Linked DNA regions of Homo sapiens: region 2 is linked to region 1. Evidence: fine-mapped expression QTL. A gene starts in region 1. The other region holds a variant in brackets. All regions are shown on one strand. Distances are between the middles of the regions.

Region 1 (2,912 bases):
TGCAACCTCTGCCTCCCAGGTTCAAGCAATTCTCCCTGCCTCAGCCTCCTGGGTAGCTGGGATTACAGGTGCCCACCACCACGCCCAGCTAATTTTTGTATTTTTTTAGTAGAGATGGGGTTTTGCTATGTTGGCCAGGCTGGTCTGGAACTCCAGACCTCAGGTGATTCGCCCAGTTTGGACTCCCAAAATGTTGGGATTACAGGCGTGAGTCACGGCGCCTGGCCTAAAATCTGGAATTAACACACTGTTCCTCATAGGACTCCATTTCTCTTTCTACCTTAGGCAATCCAATTCTACTCCTCCTGCAGTGCATGAATATATATTAATAACTTTTTTCAAGAGAAAGATCAGTTGCAAATACTTATCAAATGTGTTGATACATGCAAATTAGGCTTTCCCTGCTGCCCTTTCAAAACACAGAGAGAATAAAATGACCTATCCTTAACCCAATGACTAAGTGTTTGTGTGAACTTGAATAAACCTTCACCTTTCCTGTGCCTCACTGTTCTTATCTACAGAGCAGAGAAGTTAAACCAGATGACTTCTAGTTAAAATAATGTATGATTTAATGATTCAGTTAATTAAGATTCTATTGGGAGGCCGAGGCGGGGGGATCACGAGGTCAGGAGATCGAGACTATCCTGGCTAACATGGTGAAACCCCATCTCTACTAAAAATACAAAAATTAGCCGGGCGTAGTGACGGGCGCCTGTAGTCCCAGCTACTCGGGAGGCTGAGGCAGGAGAATGGCGTGAACCCGGGAGGCGGAGCTTGCAGTGAGCCGAGATTGCGCCACTGCACTCCAGCCTGGGTGACAGAGCCAGACTCCATCCTCAAAAAAAAAAAAAAAAAAAAAAAAAAAAAAAAAGTTTCTACCTGTGCACATATTTAGCTTCAGATATGATCTGTGTGAGAAGACCATCTTGAAGGAAGTCAAGAAATCTAAGAATGAGTCCCGTTTTCAGCATCAAGTGGATATATAATCATTAGAACAGGGAATAACCTCACTTTCCCCGTTCATTAAATGGGGTAACACTCGTGGTCATCTCTCAGGGTTGTTTTGAAGACTGAACAAGATAAGTCATGTGAATGTGTTTTGTAAGTTGTATAGTTAGAGGAATTAGAAGTGTAATCATTGTTAAAGGAGATGTTTGAAACACTGCATATATCATCACTGCCAATGGAGATAACAGGCTGAGTCCGGGTTATTTCTCGTTAGGACGCGTCCTTGTGCTGAGTAAATGGTAGGTTACCTTATCAGACTGCGCAGTGAGTCTTGATCCGGGAAGCGCCTAACTCCTGAATTTTTACCAGAAAATAAAGGACTACACTAAAAAGAAACCAGAAAGAACGTGGGAAGGAGGGAATTCGCAGGCAGAGGAGGAGGAAAAGCAAAGACGAGGCAAAGTTAGGAGAATGAAAGGCGAATTCAGAGGAATGATAGGGGCGGGTAGGGCCGAGCCGGCCTGGCAGGACAGGGTGGTGGCGAATGAGCTGCTAGCCCGGCGACCTGCCCGCGGCCCCGGCGGGGGAGGAGGAGGGGCTTGGCAAAGGGCAACGCCAGAGCCAGACTTAAAAGGGAGATGATCCTAGCTAGTTGACGCCACCGGTGACCTCCGACGCCCCGGGCAAGAGAACGCCAGGAGGGATAACGGGAGGAAGGCCGGCCGGGGCCGCCAAGGCAGTCCCAGGCTCGCGTAGGAGGCGCGCAGACCTTGCACCTTGCACCTTCGCAGCGCCCTGCACCCCGCCACCATGTGCGAGCTGTACAGTAAGCGGGACACTCTGGGGCTGAGGAAGAAGCACATCGGGTAAGGGCACCCTGGCCCGGAAGTAAGTGCAGAGAGGGGGCAATAACGAGTGCAGAAGGTGGAGAGAGAAAGCCGGCTAGGGAACAAACGATGCGCTGCAGCCGCACTCCGTGCCCGCCGCGCCTGTGCACGCGCCCCGCGCGCCTCCACCTGCAGGGGCCGCGCGGACTCCCAGAAACGCTCCTGGAACCCGGAACGCTGGGCTTCCTGCCCGCTCGAAAGTCCCCGGCTCGCTCTGCAGCCGGCGGACTAGCGGGGGCTGCCGGCCGGCTAGAGGGGTTGGTGGATGACGGCCAATAGCCCTAGCAGACACCATTCCAGGGATGGGAGATGGGTGGAAGAAGGATAGCGCTCCGCCACCCCCACACAACTCGAAAGTTTTTGGAAACTGTGAACTGAGAAATATTTTTTCATGATGGCTCCGCAAACAAACCAATTCTGACAATTTTTACTTAAAGTGAGCTTTTTCTTCTTGCATGCTTGGTTAAGTGATGAAGGGTTTATCTAGCCAATAGAAAAACTTGAAACCACCTTCTGTTAGAAAAGCAGAGACTTTATTTAGATCCCTCTTACCCAACTTGCTCTCCCAAGCTGTGTTCTTCCCAGCCTGCTTGTCTTGCCCCCGTCACAAACGACTTAGTAATATAAAGGTGAGTATATAAGACCGACAGGGGCTCTAGCTCTCGTTGGATGTCATATTCCCTGTGTGGACCTCTGTCAAATTAATTGTCTCTTCTATGAAAGTAGGAATAACATTCTACTTCACAGGAGCAAGAAGATGAGATTAATATGTTAGTGTTTTGTGCGTGGTTTTTAAAAAGATACGTGTAAATATAAATGATGATTAATGACCCCGAATACTGTAAAGTCAACCGTCTGCAATATTCACTTGAAATGAACGACTGCAGCCGGGCCAGTGGGCATGAGAGAGCACTTGGGGTTACAAGGAAGAAAACAATCCGCATCCTCTTCGGAGGAATGCTGGACAGTTTCTCAGACTGAAGCTCCTCACCCCAACTGGAGGGGTTTCTGGGTGGTTTGGAAGACTAGTTCCATCTCTCTCAGCCGCTAAGTGGGATCAAAATAATCCAGTTCTTT
Region 2 (2,912 bases), 450 kb after region 1:
AAGTAGCGGTCACTTTGAACTTGTGGAGGATATTTCAAAGATCACAAGGAAAAAATCTACAAGAAAGGTATGTGGGACCATAGAAGGAAATCAAAGACTAACACATGACTTTCGGTGGCTTGCAAAAGAAAAGATAAAGGAAGCAAAGAGACAAAATACACCACAGAGTTAGAAAAAAATTATACTTTCACAAGTCTATCAAAGGGAATAAAATCCCCAAAGGGAAGTATACCGCTAAATAAGGAAGGCAAATATAAGAAGAAAACTCAAACTATTAAAATGCTTAGCAGACCACGCTGCAAACTGAAACCTTGCATGCTCGTTAGAAATTACTAACACACAGTATATTTTCCCCTAATTATTGAGATACCTAGGTTGACCATCAGCAAATTGAATTCAATGTGATTAAACTTTGCTCATTCATCATCTCCCCTCACCAGAGGCTAGTGTGGAGCTGAGCTGGCTTCTGAGGATGACTTCAGATTGAGAGCATTGGGTATCTGAGCCTGGAAGTCAACAGCCAAAGGGCATTCAGCTTTGCTTCAGATCCTTCCAGAGGTTACCTCCCCTCAGCCCACCTCCCACCTCCAACATCTCCCCACCCTGCCTCCCCCGACACAACATCCCCAGACAGGAATACCCTGGGCTTCTCCCTTACCCTTCCCTTCACAACTATTTACTGAGTGCTTGCTGTAATAAGTGCCTGGCACTATGCTAGGCCTTGAACCTACGAAAGTGAACAAAAGACACACAGTCCCTGTCTCATGTGGAATCACGTGGTAATAGAGACACTAATCAGATGATCAGACAAAGATTTAATTATACATTGTGGCAGGCGCTGAAGAAGCACCGTGAGAATATACGACGTGGGGTTCAGTCTAGCCTGGTGGGTCAGCGCTTTCCTGAGAAATTAATGTCTGAGCTCAGAACTGAAGGACAAGCAGTAGCAGCCAGATTTGGGGAGTGGGGCTGGAGAAGAGGATTCCAGGCAGAGGAAACAGCCTGTACAAAGGCCCTGAGGTGAGAGGGAATGTGGTGCACTTGAGGACTGCAAGAAGGCCAGAAAGCAGGTAACAAGAAGGAAGGGACAATGCAGGGCTGGAGAGTGAATTGAGGCCCAACAAAGCAGGGTTTTACGGACCACCGTAAGGGCTTGTGTGTACTCCAATAACAATCAAGAAGGGTGTTAAAGGGGCAGGGAGCATTTGACACACTAGATATTTTTAATTTGTTGTAAGTAGAGCCAAGATCAACTATAATACATAATTTTCAGGATTCAAAGCAAAATAAAAACACAGGGCCCTTTGTTTAAAAATTATTTAAAATGTCAAGGCTGTAACAGCAGAGCATTATAACCAAGCAGGCCCCTTCTAAGCCAGTCCTGGGAGGAGCATCCCTGAGTCCCTGGGATGTCTTGGTCTTGGGTTAGTCGGCGTGGCTCCAGGACTGATCTCAGCCTTTGCATAGTCAGGCCTGCTCTGAGCTCAACAAGAAAGCAACATGGGCCCCTTGCTCTGCATTTTAAGATGCCATGCAAGGTTTCCAGTCTTCAAATTCTTTAAACTGAGTAATATAGAGAGAGAAG[T/G]TAGTTGAGGTAAACAGAAGAGCTATCAAGCAGAGTGAGAGTGATCTGGCTGTGAGGCTTCCTGCACTAACACAATCCACAGATCTCTCACCAGAGACTCTGGAGTCCAAGGCCCAAAGTAGGGTGAGGCAAGGGAAGCTCCTGGGTGCAAAATTTAAGGAAGCACTTACTTTCAAGGAAGTACAAGTGTCGGTTCGGGACCTGAGATGTAGTGCCTCCTTAAATTTACCCCTCCCACCCCACGTCTGGCTTGCCTCTCATCCTAGTTCCAGCCCTGGTCTGAGCAAAGCACCAGAGGTGTAAATCTGGAGTTTTGGAAGCCCAGCAGGCAGCAAGTCAGCTCTATGCCAGGGGTAGAGAAATGCCTGCAGGTTGAGAAAGCAGGCCATCTTTGGGGTGGAAATACCTTCTGAAATTCAGTACATGGGGTAGGCCCTTTGGAGCTATCTACTTGCTAACTCTGTACTAGCAGCCTTGAGCCAAGTAAAGATCTGGGTGACCCAATGGGCATCTTTGCTGTGTTATAGTTTGTATATTACAGTGACCTATATAGGGTCTGCTCAGTTGGAAACTCAGTTTAGCCGACATACTTGTCTAGGAATTCAGACAGTGCATTGCTGATAGGAAAACAGATCTATCCATGTTAGCTCAGCCTTGTCTTATCAATGCTGTTATTTATTTCAAGCAAATCTCAAAACACAGGCTCCGACTCTTTTATGTGAAGAGAAATAAGATGGTGATTTGGTTAATCTTACCTTTTCTGCCATTTCAGTACTTGTATTCTCCTACCCTCCTTTCCCTGTCCCTTTATGAAGAAGAGAACCTCTTCATGCCCCACTGTCCATTACAAAACATTAAAGATGATTTCATTTGTGGCCAAGTAAAAGCTCTCTGCAAGTCCCATCAGAAGCCTGGCCAGGAAAGCAGGTAAGTTTTCCAAAGTGCAGACTATCTCCATAAAGTAGTTTGACCCCAGAGCCCTGTCTGATTTTGTCTGTCTTCTGTCTATTGCTTTGTCTGGATTTTTGCTCCCCTTTGCATTGAAAAGTGCAATTATTCCACAGCAACTGATTTTCCTGTTAGAAGATGGAAAGGCCGTTATTAATTTGTCCTCATGTTAATATACTTCATTTCCTTTCATCTTTATTACCCATCTATATATTCCTCAGAGGTCTTGTTTACATAAAACAGAACTCCTGGATGCAGAAAGTACTTAATGAGTCTCAGCATAACCACTACAGAGCAAACATAGTCCATTCACCCTTTATAATTATGAATCACTTGACAGTATTAAAAAACATCTTCAGCAAATGGTGCCAGGCAGTTT

Alleles and levels. Positions count from the first base shown, and alleles are read on the strand shown. Sizes are in standard deviations (SD) of each study's normalised expression.
For the expression in stomach of the gene that starts at base 1,604 in region 1, T is the high allele of the variant in region 2 and G is the other (moderate effect, 0.49 SD a copy in GTEx).

What was found. PIP is the estimated chance that this variant, and not a neighbour inherited with it, causes the effect. A credible set is the group of variants that fine-mapping cannot tell apart.
Region 2: its variant is the best candidate, but not a certain one, in a credible set for the expression of ETNPPL in stomach (GTEx, PIP 0.62).

What each region holds. Positions count from the first base shown.
Region 1 is chr4:108,761,745-108,764,656 of GRCh38, reverse strand. It overlaps ETNPPL (ethanolamine-phosphate phospho-lyase), which reads left to right and starts at 1,604. Exons shown (of 13, transcript NM_031279.4): 1 at 1,604-1,814. The coding sequence starts at 1,759.
Region 2 is chr4:108,312,620-108,315,531 of GRCh38, reverse strand. No RefSeq gene overlaps it. Among named protein-coding and RNA genes, the nearest start is that of LEF1, 150 kb to the right of the region's middle. The variant T/G (reference allele first, on the strand shown) is at 1,586.